Regions from separate parts of the Homo sapiens genome. Here regions 1 and 3 are each linked to region 2. The links come from fine-mapping of genetic effects on gene expression. A gene starts in region 2. Each other region holds a variant in brackets. All regions are shown on one strand. Distances are between the middles of the regions.

Evidence for each region. PIP is the estimated chance that this variant, and not a neighbour inherited with it, causes the effect.
Region 1: its variant is fine-mapped to the expression of ALDH1A3-AS1 in prefrontal cortex (GTEx, PIP above 0.99). The same link has a PIP of 0.9 or more in anterior cingulate cortex.
Region 3: its variant is fine-mapped to the expression of ALDH1A3-AS1 in caudate (GTEx, PIP above 0.99).

The regions. Positions count from the first base shown.
Region 1 is chr15:100,893,226-100,900,742 of GRCh38, forward strand. It overlaps ALDH1A3 (aldehyde dehydrogenase 1 family member A3), which reads left to right. Exons shown (of 13, transcript NM_000693.4): 6 at 729-857; 7 at 2,708-2,821; 8 at 4,858-4,960; 9 at 7,350-7,517. ALDH1A3-AS1 (ALDH1A3 antisense RNA 1) reads right to left here. Exons shown (of 2, transcript NR_135827.1): 2 at 1-2,841. Among named protein-coding and RNA genes, the nearest start is that of ALDH1A3, 17 kb to the left of the region's middle. The variant C/T (reference allele first, on the strand shown) is at 2,193.
Region 2 is chr15:100,915,072-100,922,918 of GRCh38, forward strand. ALDH1A3-AS1 (ALDH1A3 antisense RNA 1) reads right to left here and starts at 4,212. Exons shown (of 2, transcript NR_135827.1): 1 at 3,733-4,212. It overlaps ALDH1A3 (aldehyde dehydrogenase 1 family member A3), which reads left to right. Exons shown (of 13, transcript NM_000693.4): 13 at 1-1,555. LRRK1 (leucine rich repeat kinase 1) reads left to right here and starts at 4,286. Exons shown (of 34, transcript NM_024652.6): 1 at 4,286-4,380. RefSeq lists silencers at 2,953-3,172, 3,933-4,522 and enhancers at 2,958-3,550, 3,303-3,392, 3,443-3,562, 4,737-5,328, 5,855-5,914.
Region 3 is chr15:100,983,528-100,991,374 of GRCh38, forward strand. It overlaps LRRK1 (leucine rich repeat kinase 1), which reads left to right. Exons shown (of 34, transcript NM_024652.6): 4 at 1-172; 5 at 5,107-5,286; 6 at 5,723-5,871. Among named protein-coding and RNA genes, the nearest start is that of LRRK1, 68 kb to the left of the region's middle. The variant T/C (reference allele first, on the strand shown) is at 4,697.

The DNA.
Region 1 (7,517 bases), 22 kb before region 2:
GTGGTTCCCAGCCAGAGTGGTCAGGAATGGCCAGCATTCCCAGGAAGGTGGTCTCTTAGCTGGGCCTTAAAGATAAGAAAGACTTGTTCAACAAGGAAAAGGATTTTCCAAGGAGTGGGAATGGCCTAGGCAAAAGTGCAGAGGTGGCTGGGCTACTTGGAAGGGAACAGCAGGAAAGCTGGTGGGGCTAGAGCTCAGGCAGGAGCAAAAGTGAGGAAAAGGGTGAGCACACGTGGCAGGTGGTGTGGGCCAGCTTCCAGCAGCTTTGGCTGCTAAGGGGCCGGGACTTTATTCATTGGGCGGTGGGGATGCTTATAGGTGCCCAAGAAGTGCAACAATGCTGCCTGTCTGTTTGGGAAGCCTCTGGCCATTGCAACAACAGCCAGGCAGGAAGCTGAAGAGCCAGGTGGCAACATGAAGTGAGGGTTCAAAAAGTGCCCATGGAGGCAGGGAGGAGGACACGTCTTCAGCAGATGTTTTAGAGGGAGAGGTAGAACACATGCAACAGCATCCTCTTTGCAAAGGCTGCCTATTAGTACCACCCAGAATGCAGTTTAGGAAGTGCTGTGCAGGATTGCAGTTCTGATCATTGCACACTCCTATGTTACCCCACATACCCCAAATCCAGACCATGAAAAGCAAGTGTCCTCCACAAAGGCATCGTTGAGCACATGGGACAGGGTAAGAGGGTGGATCTGGGCCTCCAAAGCCCCTGTGCTCTGTCGCAGTGGAACTTCCCCCTGCTGATGCTGGTGTGGAAGCTGGCACCCGCCCTCTGCTGTGGGAACACCATGGTCCTGAAGCCTGCGGAGCAGACACCTCTCACCGCCCTTTATCTCGGCTCTCTGATCAAAGAGGTGAGACATCCAAAAAGAAAATATCACATGTTCTTGGTAACATTCCCACTCCTAGGAACCAGGCCACCGTCACGAGATGGGACAGTGGCAGACTGCTGGCAATCGAGTGGGAAGGGAATGACTTCCAGTGTTTTGTTTGGCGACTGCACGTTCTTTCTCCTGCTTGTGGCCACTGAGCTGGAGAAACTCCATTCCTCCCAGTGGTCCTAATGAGAATGCTTAACTCTTATTATGGGCTCAAACCTATGGTTGAGGACCCAGTGGTTTGTCTAGAGAATTTTCAGGGGGGGTCAACCAAGAGGGAGCCAAATATTTGGGAGGTTCTCTGGGATTTGCATTCTCAGTTTATGAAATGGTCCATTTTTCTCTGGAGAGGTGGCCTCGTCAGCTCTAGCTGGGCGGCTGCAGCAGTCCGTGTGCCGGGTCCCTGCTAATCAGTGCCCTCTGCTCTGAATGCAATCTCTTCTCCCTCAGGCAGCCAGAACTTAGGGAAACAGAGGCTCAATGGGACACCTCCTTCCAGACATACCTTTAGTCATTCCATCCCCAGGTTGTATGGAGCAAAGATTTAGAGAAAGCAACAGGAAGCAAAGAGGGACAGAAGAAAAGATCCATTCCTTTCTCTTCTTAGTCGGGCTGATATGACCGGCAGGCAGGTCCACAGTTGCTTAGAAGCAAGGTGGGAACAGCTGGTGATGAGCCAATTTTCCACTTTCCTTTGGTGATGTGGGGCATAATTAAGTCACACTGGTGAGACTTAGGAATGTGAAAATCCCAACTGTTAAGAAACAGTGCCTAAAAATCTAAAGACTCAAGCAGCGTGCCTAAAATCTTGATTTTCTGAAATAATGTGTTCTAAGTAAGACTCAGCACAGGTGGGGAAGAGCATCCTCCACCTCGTTTGTTTTGTGTTCTCGCCTGATAAAGAGGCTTAGTATATGAAAAACACGAGGCATGAACGTGAACGAGGTGGCAGTCCCTGCCTTCCAGAAGGGCTTGCTCCAGGTGAGACCCAGGTTGAACAAGCAAAGAACTTTAAGGGAGTGATACCCTGTCACCATTTGGAATAATAACGGGTCTGATTAAAAAATGAAAACTGGGCTCACGCCTGTAATCCCAGGACTTTGGGAAGCCGAGGTGGGTGGATCACGAGGTCAGGAGATCGAGACCATCCTGGCTAACACAGTGAAACCCCATCTCTACTTAAAAAAAAAAAAATTAGCCAGGCGTGGTGGCGGGCACCTGTAGTCCCAGCTACTCAGGAGGCTGAGACAGGAGAATGGCGTGAACCTGGGAGGCGGAGCTTACAGTGAGCCAAGATCGCGCCACTACACT[C/T]TAGCCAGGGCGACAGAGCAAGACTCCATCTCAAAAAAAAAAAAAAGAAGAAAAAACAAAACTGAAGCTCTTGGCAGATATTTTGCAGGTGCCTCTGATCCTGGGCAGGGCATTCTGATCAAGGTACCCCTCTCCCCTTAACGCATACACACACTCTCCCTCACACACACACACACCCCACATGGAAAGGTGCTGTGCTACAGGCGGGCCATGGCCACCTTGAAGCATAACCACACATTTGCACTGCATATCACTTTGGGATGGGGTCCCCCCCCAGAAGGAGAAGTGGGCATCTCCCCTTGCCCAGCCTGCACACTGGGCTGGCAGCAGGGGATGAGAAGCCCAGGTCAGCTCCCAGGGTGCCCACGGTCAACTGCTTCTGGGTCCTGGGTAAATCCAGCCCGGCCCGGGTTCCCTGTGGGGATGTGAGGCAGCCACGGCTCTCTCGGCCCAAATGTGGATCCGTGGTGGATGAAGTCCGTTCTTCTTCAAGTGCTATCTTGATTTCTTCCCAGGCCGGGTTCCCTCCAGGAGTGGTGAACATTGTGCCAGGATTCGGGCCCACAGTGGGAGCAGCAATTTCTTCTCACCCTCAGATCAACAAGATCGCCTTCACCGGCTCCACAGAGGTAACCCTCCTCACAGGGTGCTGGGGAAAGTGAAAGGGGCGTGTTATTTGACACCCGTGAGCTTTTCCTTTGACAGGCTTTAATATGATTTGTTTTTCTTCTAAATTTGACCATGTTTTAGTACATAACAACCAGTTAAAAAAAGTCACTGGTCTAGTTTCCAAACTAAATAAATATCTAATAGAACTCAGAAGCCTTAGAAGAAAAGATTGAGAGATAAGATAAAGTAGAAATGTAAAATATTCATCTGTCAAACACCATAATTAAGATTAAGAGATAAATAACAAGCTCAGAGAAAAATAGTCGTGATGCATGCAGTGCTCCAAGAATTTATATCCGTCATATGCAAAGTGCTCCTACAAGTCAATGAAAAAAAAAAACCAAACTGAATGGTAGAAAAATGGGCAGTTCAGAGAATAGAAATACGACGTGCCCATTAAGCTTAAACTAGTTTGCTGGTAATCAGGAAAATGCAAATTCAAACAAAATCAGACTTTCCTTTTGCCTGCCAGATTGCTAAGAACTGAAATGATACTGCTGAGAATATGGGGAAGCAGGTGCTCAGCGACACTTGCCCTAAGATGCACAGTGTTTTGGTAGCACTCATCCAACATTTAAAGTGAAAAACTTTTCGATTCAGAAGCTCCATTTCAAAAAAAGAAAAAACTACTTAGAGAAATTTTCTCATGAGGCTTCAGGGACATATTTTCAAGGATATTATATTCATTCTCTGGAATGTTTTACAGCCGTTACAACAAGGAAAGCTGTCCATGATCTATTGTTGAAGCACAAAACAGCAAACGGTAGAAAATTACCCACAATATTTTCCCATTCGTAGAGGTGTGTGCTTGTAGAAGTAGAAATTATCTGGAAGGATTCCCAAGAAATCCTTACTGATGGCCACCTATGGGGTGGGCTCGGGGCAGAGCCGGAGGGAAGCTGAAGGCTTTCTCCCTGTAATTCACATACATCTCTATGTGGAATTACTTTTAATGAGAAAGTATTTCTTCTGTACTTAAAAAAGAAAAAAACACCCGCTGCAATCAGTGTCCCCATCCCCCTCCTTAGTTAGTCCAAGCCCTGGTGGATGCTGTTACTCTCCTTGGAGACAGACACTGCCCTGTGGATGGATTCCAGACCTCATTCAGCCATCACCCATGAGCTTGCTGATGTTTAAAATGCGCTCACACCTTAGCATTGGAGAAAACAGTCTCAGACCCGGAAGAGCCTGGGCCGCGCCTTGCTAGCTTCTGGCTCTAGGCCTCCGTGTCTGCACTGGTCTCTGAGGATCTTCCCAGCTCTGAAGTTCGTGGTGCTGGGCTTTACTTGTTGCCCTAGATAAGTCACCGAGTCATGCTGGGCCAGCCCTCCCCTCCAGGGGTACAGTGGGCAATGGGAGAGACCCCGTGGGGGCCTTGAGCATGACTGGTGAGTGGCTTTTCTGCTCATAGCGCACCCCTTCACTCCCTGCCTGTCTGCGGCAGCCTCAGTCTTAGAGTGTGTTTCCAGAGAATCGGCTCCTTCTCATCCGGAAGGCTGGCTGCCCTCGCTACTTCTCTAACACTTGGAGGTTCCCTCAGATCACACCAAAGAGCCACACAGAACCACCCCCCTACTGGGCTGTTGGAATTTCAGCTGTTTCTAGTGAGAGGTAGAAGAGTCACCCTGCGGTCCCTGAAGCCCTTTACCAGACTGGCTGGACCAGCCTGCTGGGCTCAGAAGGACAGGCACCAGGACAGGTTAGCGGGTGGCAGCCCTGTTCCCAGCCAGCTGTGTGGGCTTCCAGAGGCTCTAACTCACACCTGTAAGTGGAGCGGCTTAGACCAAGGATCCCAGGATGTCATGGTCTGGCATGGGAGGAGATGCTGGCAGAGGCCAGGACAGTGAAGGGACGGCATCGGGGCCTGGAGCGCCTGGGCCGAGAGCCAGGTGGTGGCACTGCCACCCGGGCTTGATCAGAATGTTCACTGATGTTTACGCCTGGGCCAAGTTCAGCAACATCCAAGGTAAATTGTGATCTGTGTTCTGTCCTGGAGGTTGGAAAACTGGTTAAAGAAGCTGCGTCCCGGAGCAATCTGAAGCGGGTGACGCTGGAGCTGGGGGGGAAGAACCCCTGCATCGTGTGTGCGGACGCTGACTGTGAGTCTCTGCCCTCCTGGGCTTTGCTGGGGCTTCAGGGCATCCATCTGTCTCCCCCTACTTCCTGGCCTGAATTCAAAACCAACTGAGAGTAAGATGTGTGCACACACAGTGGGGACGCTTCCACCGTGGGCATCCTGCCCACAGTCAGCCAGCCGCAGACAGGCAGGTGGACATCAAAATGCCAGCTTTACTTCTAGCAGAAAGCTGCCTTCTACTGCCAAAACGATATGGCTTGAGTGGCACCTGAGAGGCTGCCTGTTTCTGCGCCTTAGCGTTAAGTTTACCTGCCTGTTCCTGCAGAGCTGGGGTCACGAGGAGCAGGTCTGGCTTCTCCTCCAGAGCCCCCTGGGAGGAGTGGGGAGGGCAGGTGCTGCCCACTCCCAGTCATTCATTCTCCCCTCCAAGTCACATTTCCTATCATATGTTTTAAGATCCCTGAAGAGTGGAGGTGCTCTTTCCTTGTGTCTCAGACCTGATAAATCAGAGGAGGGCAGTAGCAACTGATCCTTCAAATTACCCGCTTTGCCTGGTTCTAGGCCTGCACCCCTGCCCTGGGAAAGCAACCTGCCCAGCAGTTTGGGGATAGCTTGCGTCTTGACAGCCAAACGACACAGCGTTAAAATATATGCTATTGTTGGCTGCCATGTCCACAAGAGGGAAGGAAGGGCTGGCCGGGCATTCATTCACCTGCTGACAGGGTCAGCTATCAAAAGGTGTGACTTCCCAAGTGCCTTGAAACACCTTTGCCTTAAAGAATAGCCTCCCAGACCTGTCCACGGGTGCCAGAAATTCCTGTCGTGGAGAACAAAGCCTTTCACTTCACACTCAGATAAGGTTGGAATTGCAAATATCCCCAAGAAAAATGACCCTGGCACAATTTCTTACTAAGGTGTAAATGACTGATATCAGTTCCTTTCTGGCAGCTGGCTTTCACAATGGGAGAAAGGACAGGAGGAGGATACAGGCTCTCAGGAAGGAAAGGGGAGCTGGGTGTGAAGATGGACTTTCCATTTCTTGCCTGGGTCAGTGTTCCCTTGTGGAAGCACCATTAGTGCTATGAATAGCAAGTGGTTTTTGGAGCCACACGGAGCATTTCTGGCACTGTGACTCACATTTGGAGTCCCAAACAGCCAGGACTCCTGTTTTGCTTTCCTGTGCCACCGTATCTGGATACGCCACCTGCACTGAAGTTCATCTTCCTCCTCTTGGGGAGGAAAACTGCAGCTAAAGCACAGGACTAATTGTGTTTGGGGCTTGGTTTTACTTACGAGGGTCATAAAAACATGCTGTGTAGCCACCTCCTTCTCCTCATCAGGGCGGTGCCAGTCCACAAATTACATCCTGACATAACCAGCATCCCAGGCAAGACATCAAGGGTAACAAGCCACCATTCCCCTGCCCCTTCGCCTCACCCCTAGCTCCGTCAGGAGCAGGAAATGAGTCTGTTATCTCGGAGGAGGGGCAGTTCCAAGTTGGGACCTGGCCCAGCCAGCTGCAGGGGTCAAGGGTGCAGAGAGGTACCCCCAAACCTTATGGTGCTGTCCTGCTGCCACTGAAACTTCCACAAATGACTCAGCTAGATAGGAGCAGCCTCCTTCTCAAAGCCAAGGGCACAGTCCCTTGGAGCAGCCCCTGTGGAATTGGAACGGATCACCTTCCAATGCCCAGAGCCACTGCCAGCCTCTATGCAAAGGAAAGCTGCATTTCTTAAGAAAGCAATAGTGCGGGGGTTGGTGGTGATGAAACCAGCCAACGGTTGAACACTAGAAACCCCTCTGTAGATGTAAATGACATCCCAATACCATTCTTATCCACTAAGCGTGTCCCCCAAGATCTTATTCTCTAAATACCCTCTGGCTTGGTTTGAATAACTGGTTTTAGTTCAATGTCAGCTCTGCAACTTAGTCAGCCCTTCTAAGTCACACACATGATATTATCTTACTTAATAAGACCCTTCTTTTACTCAAGGTGGAACATTTTGGCTTCTTTAGAAGTTCTCGCCAGGGGGCCTACATCAATAATTACCGAAGTTTATTCTATAAAACATTAGTCCTCTAGAAAAAGGGGAGGGGAGGGGAGTCCTCTAGAAAAAGGCAAGTGAAATGGAGGGTGCTATGACTCTCTGGACTTATTAGCATATTAAAGGTACTGAGAAGTCCTGCAGTCAGGGAATTGATTTAACCCCAAACTTGGTGGACCCCAAAATCCTTTCTCCCTTCCTCTCTATTTGGGAAAGTCTGCAAACAAAATTAATTTCTGAAATGCAGCCATCCTGGGGCCTGTTTTCTTGTGTGGGCAATTAGAATTGCAGCTGTCACCAGTCCTGCTTTAACAACTTAATCGCTTCCTCTCGCTCTGCCCGCCTCCCTCGCCCCTCCCCCTCCAGTGGACTTGGCAGTGGAGTGTGCCCATCAGGGAGTGTTCTTCAACCAAGGCCAGTGTTGCACGGCAGCCTCCAGGGTGTTCGTGGAGGAGCAGGTCTACTCTGAGTTTGTCAGGCGGAGCGTGGAGTATGCCAAGAAACGGCCCGTGGGAGACCCCTTCGATGTCAAAA
Region 2 (7,847 bases):
CAGGGAGTGGTATTTGAAGTGTCCAGCAGTTGCTTGAAATGCTTTGCCGAATCTGACTCCAGTAAGAATGTGGGAAAACCCCCTGTGTGTTCTGCAAGCAGGGCTCTTGCACCAGCGGTCTCCTCAGGGTGGACCTGCTTACAGAGCAAGCCACGCCTCTTTCCGAGGTGAAGGTGGGACCATTCCTTGGGAAAGGATTCACAGTAAGGTTTTTTGGTTTTTGTTTTTTGTTTTCTTGTTTTTAAAAAAAGGATTTCACAGTGAGAAAGTTTTGGTTAGTGCATACCGTGGAAGGGCGCCAGGGTCTTTGTGGATTGCATGTTGACATTGACCGTGAGATTCGGCTTCAAACCAATACTGCCTTTGGAATATGACAGAATCAATAGCCCAGAGAGCTTAGTCAAAGACGATATCACGGTCTACCTTAACCAAGGCACTTTCTTAAGCAGAAAATATTGTTGAGGTTACCTTTGCTGCTAAAGATCCAATCTTCTAACGCCACAACAGCATAGCAAATCCTAGGATAATTCACCTCCTCATTTGACAAATCAGAGCTGTAATTCGCTTTAACAAATTACGCATTTCTATCACGTTCACTAACAGCTTATGATAAGTCTGTGTAGTCTTCCTTTTCTCCAGTTCTGTTACCCAATTTAGATTAGTAAAGCGTACACAACTGGAAAGACTGCTGTAATAACACAGCCTTGTTATTTTTAAGTCCTATTTTGATATTAATTTCTGATTAGTTAGTAAATAACACCTGGATTCTATGGAGGACCTCGGTCTTCATCCAAGTGGCCTGAGTATTTCACTGGCAGGTTGTGAATTTTTCTTTTCCTCTTTGGGGATCCAAATGATGATGTGCAATTTCATGTTTTAACTTGGGAAACTGAAAGTGTTCCCATATAGCTTCAAAAACAAAAACAAATGTGTTATCCGACGGATACTTTTATGGTTACTAACTAGTACTTTCCTAATTGGGAAAGTAGTGCTTAAGTTTGCAAATTAAGTTGGGGAGGGCAATAATAAAATGAGGGCCCGTAACAGAACCAGTGTGTGTATAACGAAAACCATGTATAAAATGGGCCTATCACCCTTGTCAGAGATATAAATTACCACATTTGCCTTCCCTTCATCAGCTAACACTTATCACTTATACTACCAATAACTTGTTAAATCAGGATTTGGCTTCATACACTGAATTTTCAGTATTTTATCTCAAGTAGATATAGACACTAACCTTGATAGTGATACGTTAGAGGGTTCCTATTCTTCCATTGTACGATAATGTCTTTAATATGAAATGCTACATTATTTATAATTGGTAGAGTTATTGTATCTTTTTATAGTTGTAAGTACACAGAGGTGGTATATTTAAACTTCTGTAATATACTGTATTTAGAAATGGAAATATATATAGTGTTAGGTTTCACTTCTTTTAAGGTTTACCCCTGTGGTGTGGTTTAAAAATCTATAGGCCTGGGAATTCCGATCCTAGCTGCAGATCGCATCCCACAATGCGAGAATGATAAAATAAAATTGGATATTTGAGAAACATTGTGCTTTTTCATTTAAAGACCAAAGTCATTTGAATTCGATGGCAGGCCTTTCTCTTTCTGAGACCTGTACGAAATGGCTGATATTAAAGCAGGATCAATAATGTAAGCATAAAATTACATTTGCTCAGTCAGTCGGGCCCAGTGCTTTGCCTGAGTGTGAAACCCATTTCTGTGGGCTTGGGGGTTGACCAGGCAAGGAGCTGGGCCTCAGAGGTTCCATGTCATAGCTGGCTGAGTTTCAGCTGTTATCTAAGCTGCCTGAGTCTCCTTTTATCATAAAGTAGTGATGGTGTCAGTGTGCGAAATGGTGGGGAGGACTGCATGAGGATTGACGGACAGCATTGTGCCCCTGACGGTGAGCACAAGTGTCTGTTTTTGTCACCTTTTCCTCTAGAGAAATCTAGAGGATCTAGAGAAAGGATCAATTTGGGTTTTACTGACCTCAAGTTTCTAAAGCTTCTAACCAAGAAGCCTCAATCACCCCGTTGTGAGCTGACGCTGCCATTGGCTCAAGATCATTGCTGGTACTGGGGTATGTCCTCCAAGCTCATCCCTTGCATTTGATGTGGAAAGCCCAGATCATTTTGACATGGGTGGCAAAGCACCACCACTTTAACAAAAAAGGGAGGCTGGGATCAGATCTCTCGTAACATATGCACTTATGTTAAGAGAATTTAGACACATTATTTAGAGACATCCCATTTCTCAATCCAAATGTGAGCAGGAAACTGTAGGAGAAGGATATTTTCCCTCATTTGGTGTCCCGGAACATGACTCCCTGAAGGGAGCCATTCTGGGGACAATTGGAGGGTGTGGTATGCGTGTGCACACATGCATTTGTGTGCCTGGTGTGCGTGTGGGGGTTGGCACCTCTCTAGAAGTGGACCCTTTGGGATGTCCTAGCTTCTCCTGCTGGTGGATGAAGCCTTTCTAATGGCTTTGCTCCTTGCTCCTAGGCATGAGCTTGAAGGGGGATAATGAAGGGCGTTTAGGAAGTTGCTCAAGGAAGACTGTCTGAGGAAACTGCGTACTGGGCTGAAGAAAGACAACCGGAAAACACTGAAGGAGCGCTCAGCCACTGCACCTTCAAAAAGGCAGAAAAGTCAGTTCAGGGAGGTGCCTCCCAGCTACCCCACCCACCTCAGGAGGGGTCATTCCAACCTAGGGTGCTGAGAATCTGGGTGGGATTACCAGCAAAAGCTAGAGAACCATGGGTCAGCGACCCTTAGGAAGAAGTGGAAAGGAGTCTTAACTTACCTGCAATAACCTTCCTATGCGAAGTTGTGGCTAACGCATGCCTAATGGCTAGAATTAAATGCTGGGAATATAACGAGCTCAGCACAGGTTATCCGCGTGTCAGATGTTCCTGCTGTCTTCTACAGTGGGGACATTTCCTAGCCTATTCCCAGGCTCCTTTAGAAGGGAAGTGGAGGTGCCCCATCTTCACCTGCCGCGTCCCCTCCAGCGTCTGCCCGGGCCCTGGGCCTGCGCTCCCTCGCGGTGGCGCCAGGTGGCGGGGCTGCGCGCCCTGGAGGAGCTGCACCGCCGTCGCGGGGCTCTCTCAGCACTGAGGACACCACGCCCTGCAAATTGTTGGGAACTTGTCGGTGGCAATCACACTGCTGGCTCCTGCAAACTGGTGTGAGGCCCTCAGGGGTGAGAACAGGATTGCAGAACTGCGCTCACCCTTTTGGAAAGTCGTCCAGTGGCAGAAGTAGCCTCCCAGGAGCAGAGCGAAGCTGCTCGGTGGTCCCCTCTCCAACCAGGGACCCAAGAAGCCGCTCAAGGGAACACGGCCCCGCGGCGTCCGGGAGGTCCTGCAGGAGCCCTGCGGCTGCCCCGGTTCTGTGAAATGGCAGTGAGGGTGGGGGAGATGTGCGCTAAATCCTGGGAACGTGCGAGTCATAACTTTCCAGGAGAGGGGCCCAGGGCGCTGGTCCTGCAGGGCGTGGAACCCTCTGCTCTTCCTGAGCAGGCTTTGTCCCCGGGTCGACACGGGGAGCTCAGCGTGAGGCCCGCCTGCAGCGTGGACGCAGATCTTTTTTATGGTCTGCGTTTCTGTATTAGCCTCAGCAGCCTGGTGACGCCTTTATAAAAGGTCGAAACACGATAAATTGCCAATATTCCACGTTTTATGTATTCCCCCCAAAGCCGACAATTAACAATGACTCACCGAGCAGCAGATTCTTTGCACACATCCATAATTGAATCAGTAAAATCCATGTGTTGGAGGATATGCAAATTGCAGGTCGTTAACGCTTTAGAACGACACATTTCTGTATCGCCCCGTGAAGAGCTCTACGCACATGAATGTTCCCCGTCTGTTTAACTGTTACGGCCGCAGTGTGTGGGCCGCAGGCGCGCTGGGGGCTCATCTGCTGATTTTGCTGCCCCTGGAGCAGAGGGATAGCGAAAGCGGGGCTGAGCGCAGCACGGACCGATCCCATCGCCGCGCTCGCCCCGCGTGGAGGCAGCCGGGTGCCCGAACCTGAAGGAGGACCCGGTGCCGGAAGGGCCCGCGGACCCCGGCGTCTCCCGGGGCATCGAGCGCCATCGCCCGCGTTTTACGGCCAGGGAAACTGAGGCGGCCGCCGAGGGGACGCCTCGCGACGGTTCCTGGGAGAGCTGGCGGCGGCCTTGCTCTGCGCGCTCTTCGCGCCGCCCTCCCCGCCCGCCCGCCTCAGGATTGAGGAAGTGCGTCTGGGCCCGGCCCCGGCGCGGGGGGCAGACGGCGGTGGGACGGCCAGGCCCCGGCCCCGCCAGTGTGTCCGCCCGGCCCCGCGTCCCGGAGCGCCCGCACCCGGCCCCGCCGCCGCCTCAGGTAAGCGCCGCTCCTGCCGGCGCCCCCCGGCGGCCTGGCTGCCTCCCGGCCCCGCCCGGGGAACCCAGAGCCCGCGCCCGGCGCCCGCGGGGAGCCTCGGCCTCTGCCTGCCCGCGGGCCCCTGCGCTCCGGGCGGCCGCGTGGTCGGGCACGGGGGGCCGTTGCGCAGGGGCCGCGGCCCGAGGGGCGCGGAGGGCGTGTGGGGCGACCCCGGTCTCACGTCCCCGCTGCCTCCCGCCGCGCCCGGAGCCCAGCCAGCCTGTGGGAGGGGAGCGCGCGGGGCCCGAGCAGGGAACCCCGAAACCCCGTCCGGGCAGGGTCGGGAAAGCTGGGAAGCGGAGGCAAGAGACACGAGTCGGGAGACACGAGCCGGGGAGCCCATAGGTTTCCTCTGCCTTTGGAGCGAACCCAGTCCCTTAGCGGGGAGCGGGCGGAGTGTGAGCGCGCGGGTGAGCCCGTGCCGGGGTGTCGGCAAGAGACCGCCCGGGAGCCTCTCGCTGGTCCGGGGCTTCCTGGGGTTGCGGGGCGGCCCAGCGAGGCTTCACCCTCCTCGATGTCTGGGTCACGCTTCTTGCCCAGGTGGTCTCTGGCTGGCGCAGATACAACTGCTCTGTCTACCATGGTCTCTGCAAGCTACAGGGGACCTTCCTGGCAGGCAGGGACGCGGGAAGGAAGCCTAGGAAGGCCGGGGTCAGCGAGGAGACGCTGGTGGAGAATCTGAGAACCCCCGTGGCCATCTCAACCTACCCCTTCACAGTATGAGGCCGCGAAGTTTTTCTCCCACGAACACTTCCCCTGCAACAGGTAGAGAAACGGGGGCATATAGCTTTCAGCAAACCTCTCACCGTGTACACTAATGATAGAGTTTGCCAGCCACTCACAGGGTATCAAAATGCCCAGACATTAAAGGGATAGCTAGAACATGCACAATTTTGGAAAATGTTAACATTAAACGCCTTTTATGATTTGATTCTCTTCATCTTTGCCTATGTCCTGAAAGAGAAAATAATATAACAAACTAACCTCACACCTAATTTGTTCCTAAAGGAGGTTTTGCGGTCAGCCAAACCTTTCCCTCTCCCAAAAGTCGATGTCTCTGGCAGTGACCTCGCAGTCAACTCGGATCCTCAGATAAAAAACATTCAGTCTGTTGAATCTATGTCTAAAATGTGTCCTGATCTGTCCCCTTTTTCTTATGCCCCCACCCCCCACCCTGCCCCTTGTCCAGGGTACCAGCATCTCTTTACTGTAGGATTTCAGTTCCCCCTTCCTCCATTCTCTATATAGCAGCGTGCGTCTGTGTGTGTCTGTGTGTTTAAATGGGTAAATCAGACCATATCAGTCCTCTTTATGGAGTCCTTCAGTAGCTTCTCCTTGCAACTGGCACGCAATCCAGGAGACCTCCTTCTCCTCACACCCCCAGCTGATCCAGCCTCTGCTGTCTCGGACCACCAGGCCATTGCCCCAGGCCACACTGGCTGAGCTTGCTGTCCAGCACTGGTCCCCTGCACTGCTGCCTCCTGACTCTTCACACAGCCTCAGAAAGTCTTCCCTGGTCACCCTCTGAAAACCCACGCTCCCTCTCACATCCCTCACTCTGCAGCCTCCCTGCAGTCCCCATTCTGTACTCCTTCTTTATCTGTTTAATTTCTCCTTAATTATCTTGTGGTCTCCACTGGAGCTCTTGGGGTCAGAGACTGATCTGTCTTGCTTATTGCTGTGCCCTCATTCCCATAACTGTACAGGGAGATACCCCGTGCATGGTGGTAGAGTGACTGGATGGGGAATGGACAACCCTAACTTACCTGTGGTTTCAGACTCATGGAGCATTTCTCTCCTCCACCCTTTTTGGGCTCATCTGGGATTGAGAACAACATATTTCTCTGGCCTGCAGCTCCAAGATATTTGGATGCCCCCAAACCCATTAAACACATTTTATAGGCAAAAGCCAATGCTAGTAAGGGATGCAAATAGCACTCAAGAGATTTCTAGAATCATGGGCTAACCATTTTGACCAGGATTTTGTTTCAAAAAGGAACTAGGTGATATGAATGAGCATGTCTAGCATGCTTTGCTTGCAAGGGACTTCTAACTTCTAACTGATATCGACAGTCCTTCCCAAGCCTCCTAAAATATCTGGGCTTCTCTGCTGTCAGAAGCTTTATAGCAATTACTTAGCTGTCTGCTCCCCCACCAGCTTCACAAACTCATGAAGTTCCCTCTTCATAGAAAGAACTCAATAAGACATTTGTAGAATGAATGACAGGTTCTTCTCTTTTCTTTTCTCTAGAGTCTTGCTCTGTCACCCAGGTTGGAGTGCAGTGGTGCAATCTTGGCTCACTGCAACCTCCACCTCCCCCAGTTTAAGTGATTCTCATGCCTCGGCCTCCCAAGTAGCTGGGATTACAGGCGCCCACCAGCATGCCCAGCTAATTTTTGTAATTTTAGTAGAGATGGGTTTTTACCATATTGGCCAGGGTGATCTCGAACTCCTGACCTCAAGTGATCCACTCTCCTCGGCCTCCCAAAGAGCTGGGATTACAAGCGTGAACCACCGCACCCATCTATTTTCTTTTCCATTAAATGTTTAGGTTTATTCATTAATGCAGGTATAAATAGTTGGCAAAAGGAAATTGATGAGGTTTTGAAAAATCATTTAAACCATCATTACTGCTGAAAACCTCTTGATGCCCTCTTTAGGGTGTATAATGAAGACATGTAACTTGTAATCATCACTTGTTGGCACCTCTCTGGACCCAAAAGAAGCAGGAGGAAGCAAAGATCCGTTTGAGGGCAAAGATTGAGCAAAATTTGAATTACCTCATCTTAAAACTTCTACCTTAGAATATAAGCCAAAATAGTAACTAGAATTTTAAAACTGCTCCAGGGGCAGAGTCTTCCACTGGTAAAGTGATTTTCAAAAGGAAACTGAAAATGAAAAGGGGAACAAAATGTGCTGGGTGAGGGTTAGCCTGAAATAATTTTAAGATTTTTTTTTTTTTAGAACTTAAAAACATTGTATGGTAAGACACTTCTGTTTTCAGGAAGAATGTCTAGCGTTTGGATTTTTGAAATGCTGTTGGTTATGTGCGGTAGCTGTTTTGGAGAGGTGTCTGAAAGCAGATGGCAACTGTGCTTCTCAGTTTCTGGATGTGAATGTGTGATCGGAACGTTTATTTTAAAACAGATTCTGTCTTGCTGGCTCTTCCTCTCTCTGTCACAAGTTGATTTTCCAAATCAGGTTTTGCTATTTATAAGGCTTTCATCATCCCCTAAATTTTGCCCAGATTGATCGTTTTTCCTTTCCTCCTTCGACTTTTCAGGCTTCCCAACTTCAAACACAGGTGTTTCCCACACGTGGTTTGTGTCGACCATCCCTTTTGCCTCTGAAACATGTGCAGCTTGCACAAGGCTGCTGGAGCCTGGCTTTTCTAGCTCCACCTTTCCCTGCCTTGACGAGTCCAGTC
Region 3 (7,847 bases), 68 kb after region 2:
GGCCAGCTTCTGAGCATCCCGGCAGCCTATGGGGATCTGGAGATGGTCCGCTACCTACTCAGCAAGAGACTGGTGGAGCTGCCCACCGAGCCCACGGATGACAACCCAGCCGTGGTGGCAGCGTATTTTGGACACACGGCAGTTGTGCAGGAATTGCTTGAGTCCTTACCAGGTAAATCACAGGGCATGAGCTCTTAACCGTGTCTCAGGGCACCCTCTTCTTAGGCTTCACCCCAAAATGTTTACTTCTTCATGCTTTCACCAATAATGAGATCAAGAAATACAGGGTAGGCCATTGACACCCAAACAAAGTGAAGCTTGCCTGCCAGCCACATTCCACCTCTCACTCCCATGAACTCATAAGGGAAATTCTCAAACACCATATTTCATAAAGAATGTAATTAACATTGCTTTTTAAAAAAATAATTAATAGACCTTGGTCTTTTTAGAGAAGTTTTAGATTTATGGAAAAAATCAATTGGAATGTACGGAGTTCCAGAATTAATGATTTGGAGGTATGTTAACAGAAAACAGGTGATCGCTAAATCACTTACACAAGAATATCTAGGTAAGAGAGACAGTAATCATGCTAGTAACTTCTATTGAGATGGGGACGCATCAGTCTCAGGAGGCAGGTGCTATATTTCAGAACCATGGTTTTAAGATGACGAAAACAAAGCTCAGAGAGGTGACCCTCCACTGTGCGCCCTCCACATGGTTTTCCCTATAACTCTGTTTTGTGTTAGTGTGGGACATTTGTGACAACTGATCAACTAATATTGATACCTTCTTACTAACTAAAGTCCATCGCTTACGTTGCAATTCATTCTTGCTGTTGTATATCCCATCGGTTTTGACAAATGGATAATGACACGTGTCCATCATGACAGTATTACATAGAGCAGTTTCACTGCCCTAAAAATCCTCTGTGCTCCACCCCTCCCCTGGCCCCATCCCTCCCTCCCTCCCTCCCTCCCCTGGCCCCTGGCAACTACTGATCTTTTTTACTATCTTTGCCTTTTCCAGAACATCGCTCTAGTTGGAATCCCACAGTCTGTAGCCGTTTCAAACTCACTTCTTTCCCATAGCGATATGCATTTAAGGTTTCTCCATGCCTTTTTGTGACTTGATAGCTCATTTCTTTTAATGGCTGAATAATATTCCATTGTATTGGTGTACCACACTATGTTGCTTTTGTAGGAACTATTTTTTTCTCTGGTGAACTCAAGATGTCCTGGTCTCCTGTAATTTCCCGTGGTGGTCTTGGCTCAGAAACACTGCACCAGTCTAGGCAGGCATCGCTACAGCTATAGGGTGAGGCACACCCTAGCCATGGTCTTTGGGATTTGAGATTTTGCTTGGGAGCCAGGGCCCACCTCTTGGGTGGGAGAACATGCAGTCACCCAGGGCCCTGCACCTAGAAGGGCCCACGTTACGTTTAATACTCTGTACTCACTATCTTAAAATGTTTCATGATTTTTAAACAAGAAGCCCCATTCTTTTCATTTTGCATTGGGCCTCACCCCTTATATAGTGGTCTTGTTTGAGGGTTTCCAGCTGTGGGCTTTGATAGATCTGTGCTCAGCGTTGGTTCCAAGCTAGTGTTCCCCTCATGTGTCTGAACAGAATGAGGTTATGGGCAGAAATCAGGGCAATTTTAGGGCCCATGAGAAGCATACTAAGACAAGACATAGGAGGGCAGAGAGGAGCTTGGGTGCTCCTGAGGAGCCAAAGGCTGACCTGCCTCTTCTCGGGGAGCCCCAAGATTAGCTCTGTTCTAGCCCTGAAGAGTCTGCACCAGCTGACTCCGTCACCTAATGTTAGCTAATATTTATTGAATACTGTCAAGTGCTGAAAACTGTGTAGAACGTGAGAGACAGATAATTTTTTTAAAGATTTTCCCAGCCATTTAGTACCTCCTGGCCAAGCAGGGGAAATTGAGGCAGAAAGGAGTAACACTGTGCAATGTAACTACACTGAGGTTGAAGTATTTTTACGCAGAGGTCTGGGAGCACACATCAGGGGGCAGGGTAGGGTCTCCGAAGGGAGGCTGACATCTGACCTGGGCTTTGCAGAGTGAATAGGAGTTTACTTGGCAGACAAGTGAAGGAAGGACTTGGGTTGCCTGCTTTTGCAGAGCAGGAAGTGTGGCTGAACCTCGTCATGGTTTTCAACTGCTCCCAGGAGCATCGTATCTTCAGCTCAACTCTGAGCAAAGCTGCTGAGGACTGAAGGATTTCAGACCATTGTGGTGGGCTTTGCAGAAAGTGCAGAGATGGGCAAAACAGTGTGTACCCATCCCTGCACTTCCTGCAAAGGAGTTCCCAAGCTGGAAGGGAAGTCAGCCATGGTCAGGAGTAAGTCAAGACAAGAAGACAAACAAGAGTCAGGCTGGACATGCTGGCTCATGCCTGTAATCCCAACAATTTGGGAGGCCAAGGCAAGAGGATCACTTGAGCCCAGGATTTCATGACCAGCCTGGGTAACATAGTGAGACCCTGTATCTACAAAAAAAAAAAAAAATTTAAATTAACCAGGCATGGTGGCACATGCCTATATTCCCAGGTACTTGGGAGGGTGAAGTGGGAGAATGGCTTAAGCCCAGGAGTCCAAGGCTGCAGTCAGCTATGATCACATTACTGCACTCCAGGCTGAGATAGAAGGAGACCCTGTCTCAAACAAAAAACAAAAACAAGAAGCAGCTAGAGAACAAAGGAGGGTTTGAGAAGAAGAGGGATGAGAGGTTGATGGGATGCATTCTTTGAAGCACGTTGTTATGTGATTCCTGGTCTCTGAAGCTGAGCAGGGAGGAAGAGGGGCTCCTCTGAGTGTCGTTGGCCTTAGGCTGTAGAGAGTACCTGTAGGGGTTTTGTGTGGTTAAGAGAGCACCCTTTGATTTTAGACAAAGCAAGGTTTAAGTCTTGACCTTGCTATTTACTAACTGTGGGACCTTCAAGAAGTTTCCCTGCCAGGTGTGTCCCACAGACCCTGGCTGATGGATGAAATGAGTACTCAGACACAGGTGTACGGTGTAAGAGCAGCTGAGTCACTGCCTGGCTCTGTTGGCCAGAGAGCAGCCCGAAGAAGCTAGAGCTGCTTGCTTTCATTCAGTGCAGGCACAATGCCGAAAACCTGGAGCCAACACAACCTGTAGGTAATTAACATTTATTGTTCCCCTTTCAGGGAACATCAAGCCAGCAGATGATCAAAGGTCAGTTCCTGGTCAACATAAGTAAACAAGCCTGTTTAAGATACATTCCCCTACACTCCTTGCCCTCTGCCTTCAGCTGTTCTCCCCCAGGGCTCTGCAGAAGCTTCCAAACTTTCAGAAGGTTTGTGTCCTTTCCCTGTAGTTTTTCCTACGACTCTGACCAATCTCCTACATTTCCAAACCTCTCTGAGCTTTGGTTTCCTCATCTTAAAATCATGGTCCTGAAATATAATGCCTGCCTCCAAAGACTGACACATCCCCATCTCAACAGAAGTTACTAGCATGGTTACTGTGTTTCTCTTACCCAGATATTCTTGTGTAAGTGGATTAGGGGTCACTTATTTTCTGTTAACATACCTACAAATCATTAATTCTGGTTAACAGTAGAGGGAGAAGAAGGGATATTTACTTGGCACTGGCTCCAGCCTCAGCCCTATGCTACATGCTTTATTTGGTGAATACAGGGCCATCCTGACCCCGGTTTCCTGATCAATGTCCTGTCGCGAAGGAGAGAGTCACTCTCTCCTCACTTGGGAGCACTTTGATCCCTAGGACTATGTGCCTCTGGAAATGAGGCAGTGTTATGATGCATTTGGGAAGTGTCCCTGCAGAAGATGAGGTCATTTTTCCATGGCAACTAGACCCAAAAGATATTGCACTATTTTGAACTTGAAGATATTGTAACATTTCAGCCCACACTGCCCCCGTCAATTCAATGTGCTAAGTGTTATTTCATCCTGGAATTAAGTAGGTGGTTCTACTGGGGAGAAATTGTCACTTTTAGGCCTGACAGATCTTTCACCAAAGCTTTTATTATTATTATTCATGAAAGTAATATATGTATATTATAGATAATTTTAAAATGTGGGAAAGTGTCAGTACTTTAATAATACAATGACACAACATCATGAGTTAGGGTTTATTGATCCAGGCACTTGACATGCATTTTGTGATGTAGTCCTCACATTAAACTTGGAAGAATGAGTATTATTATTCCGATTTTACCAACAGGCAAACTGAAACAGAGAGAGATTAAGAAATGTGTCCAAAATTACATACTAAATTATTTTATTTCTAAAATGCCTGTCTCCAAAGTTCATACTCCTGCATGTAATGTTACCCTAGGGGAGGGGTGAGGGCAGGGGAGAGCCCAGAGAAAATACCACAATGCTGGGGTAGTTGTTTCTAGTCTTATTTCCACACACCCATTTTTTATTTGGCTAAGATCATGCTGGATACGCCATTTTTAATCCTCCATTTCATCACTCGGCATTATCTGACAAGCAGGTGGGTGACTGATGTGGGGAAATGTCATATGCAATTCAGAGAGACTATTCCAGAAAACACTATCAACTCAACAGAAGCAACTTTCAGCTGGAAACAGGACAGCTGGGTTTTGTTTTGTTTTGTTTAACTTTTACTTTAGGTTCAGGGGTACATATGCAGGTTTGTTACGTGGGTAAACTGCATGTTGCCGGGGTTCGG[T/C]ATGCAGATTATTTCGTCACCTGGGTAATAAGCATGGGACTCAATAGGTAATTTTTTAACCTTCCCCCTTTTCCCTCCCTCCACCATCAAGTAGTCCCCAGTGTCTATTGTTCCCTTCTTTGTGTCCACGTGCATTCAATGTTTAGCTCCCCCTTATAAGTGATAACATGCAGTATTTGGTTTTCTGTTGTTGCGTTAGTTCACTTAGGATAATGACCTCCAGCTCCATCCATGATGCTGCAAAGTACATGATCTCATTCTTTTTTATGGCTGTATAGTATTCCATGGTGCAAATGTACCACATTTTATTTAACCAGTCCATTGCTACTAGCGGTCTAAGGGAAGAGCAGAGTGGGAACAAACAGCACCCTTCAGTGGCACTTTCCCTTTGTCCTGCCATCTCCTGCCAGGTCCCTGCAGTCCCCAGCGGCTTCTGAACTGGATGCTGGCCTTGGCTTGCCAGCGAGGGCACCTGGGGGTTGTGAAGCTCCTGGTCCTGACGCACGGGGCTGACCCGGAGAGCTACGCTGTCAGGAAGAATGAGTTCCCTGTCATCGTGCGCTTGCCCCTGTATGCGGCCATCAAGTCAGGTGGGTTTCCCCACTACCCTGAGTCAACCCTGACCGTGCAAACCATCTCAGCCTCCAGATGTGGGACTGTGTCTTTATTCTCACTCTTGGCTCTCAAATCACCTCTGTGAGGAGACTTTTGCAACTCCTGTTCTATGTTTCTTTTTCAAAATATCTGCACCCTTCCTCATTTCCTCCTTACTTGCCCCCGCAAGGGGATTTCAGTGACAGAGACTGACTGTGGCTAATGGGACTGTTGTACGAGGCACTCCAAAGGGCAAAGCCCCACAGAAATTCTCCCACTAACAGAAACTTGATGCACCAAGGGAAGTAAATAGAGAAGTCCAACATGCACAAGTACCTTTTCAGTTTCCATTCCACATATCAGAGTCTGCCCTTCCAACGACTGTGACACTAGCATCTGCATGCCCTTAGCTTTTTGGTTTTGTTCCTTTAGGGAATGAAGACATTGCAATATTCCTGCTTCGGCATGGGGCCTATTTCTGTTCCTACATCTTGCTGGATAGTCCTGACCCCAGCAAACATCTGCTGAGAAAGTACTTCATTGAAGCCAGTCCCTTGCCCAGCAGTTATCCGGGAAAAACAGTGAGTAGTCACTGCCTGTGGAGTGTGTTTTAGTTCCTTTTGTGCTGCTGTAACAGAATCCTGCAGACTGGGTAATTTATAATAAACAGAAATATATTTGGCTTACAGGTCTGGAGATTGAGAAGTCCAAGAGCATAGTGCTGGTATCTGGTGAGGGCCTTCATGCAGTGATATGAAGGTGGAGGGCAAGAGACCAACAGACTGAGAGAGGGAAGAACTCACTTTTATAACAACCCACCCTCAAAATAACAAACCCACTTCCACAATAACAACATCAATCCATTTATGAGGGTGGGGCCTTCTTGGCCTAATCACCTCTTAATGGTCCCATCCTTATCACAACAGCAATTACATTTCATCATGAGTTTTGAAGGGGACATTCAAGCTATAGCAGGGTGGGAGCTGAAATCTGGGCTTCATCCCCCTCCCAGAGTTTTTGTTTTTGTTTCTGGTTTTTTTTGGTTGTTTTTTTTCTCTTTTCCTTTTTTCAAAAATTGGTTAAATATATCATATTTAACATATTTCTTTTTTAAATTTTTATGTGTTAAATTTTAAAATTACTAAAGTTATGAATGATTGTTATAACAAGTGATCACAATTGAGAGTGGTAATCAAAATTATGAATCTTCTGCCCTTGAAGTAAATAGTTTAACAACCTGGTAGGGATCTTTTCACATCCTTCCACATGCAATGCTATAAAAACATTTACAAAACTATACAGGGTTTAGTTTTAATTTCCCATTTTAATAACAAAAATATTATTGCGTTATTTACATTGTCTTCAACTTGGCTTTTTAAATTTAGTATTCTATCATGGACTTCCTCTAGATCAGTTATTGTGGCTTCAACTCATTCTTTTAGGGACGTTCTTTAAATACATAGAGCCAGTGTCACTTAGTTGACATAGCTCTCCTGCTATTGGTGGACATTTGAAATAGTTCTTTTTTTTTTCCTGTTGCAATATAGCCTGATTTGCTATGGTATGTTTGCTTATGTAGAGCACAGTCCTAAAAGTGGGCTGCTTTGGAAACACTGCCCCCCAACACTCTGGTGATTCACATTTTCACCAGCAATAGGTGGGATTCTCTGTCTCCACCCCTCAGCCAGCAAGCAGTAGGCATCCTGGAGCCTATTAATTTTCATCAGTGTGAGGCAAAAATAATTTCTGCTTATTTTAATTTCCATGTTATATTAGTAATAATACTGGATATCTTTTCATATGTTCATGAACTATTTGCATTCCCTTTATGTGAACTGCCTGTTAATGTTTGTTGATTATTTTTTCTAAAGGATTGTTTGTCTTTTTTTCTCACTTTGGAGGGTTTTTTTTTTTTTGAACATTAGAGATTTTTAAGACTTTATCATAAATGTTGCCAATATTTTTCCCAATCCATTATTTTTCTTTTTTTGTTATCTTTTGTGATAGCAAAGGTAAAATAATACATAATTCAATATGTTCATCTTCTCCTTTCTGGTATGTGGTTATACAAGAAGGCCACTTTCCCTCTAATTTTATTTCAGTATTCTCCTGGAGTTCCTTGTAATGTTTTCATTCATTTAGTTTTTACATTTTAAGCTTTAACCTTTCTGGTATTTATTTGTGTGTATTGTATGAGGGAAGTGGCAGAGGGTGGAGGTGGCTAGCTTTTATCTCTTCCAGATAGCCAGCTACTCTAGCACAGTTTTTAAAATGAAGTTTTCTTTCTCATCTGAATTGAGATGTCACCATTGGCATTTTCCCCAGTACCTATATCTGTATACATTTTGGGATTCTCAGTACTGGTTCACTGGCCTATTAATCTGTTTCTGGCAAATGTCATATTGTTTCGATTATAGGCACTGCATTTAAGTTTTACAATCTGTTAATGCAAGTTTTCTGTTCATTAGTTTTTTTCAAAGATATCTTGACTGGACTATTATCGGACATTTGTTCTTCTATTTTGCTCATTTCCCACAGTGACTCTATTTGTGTAGCT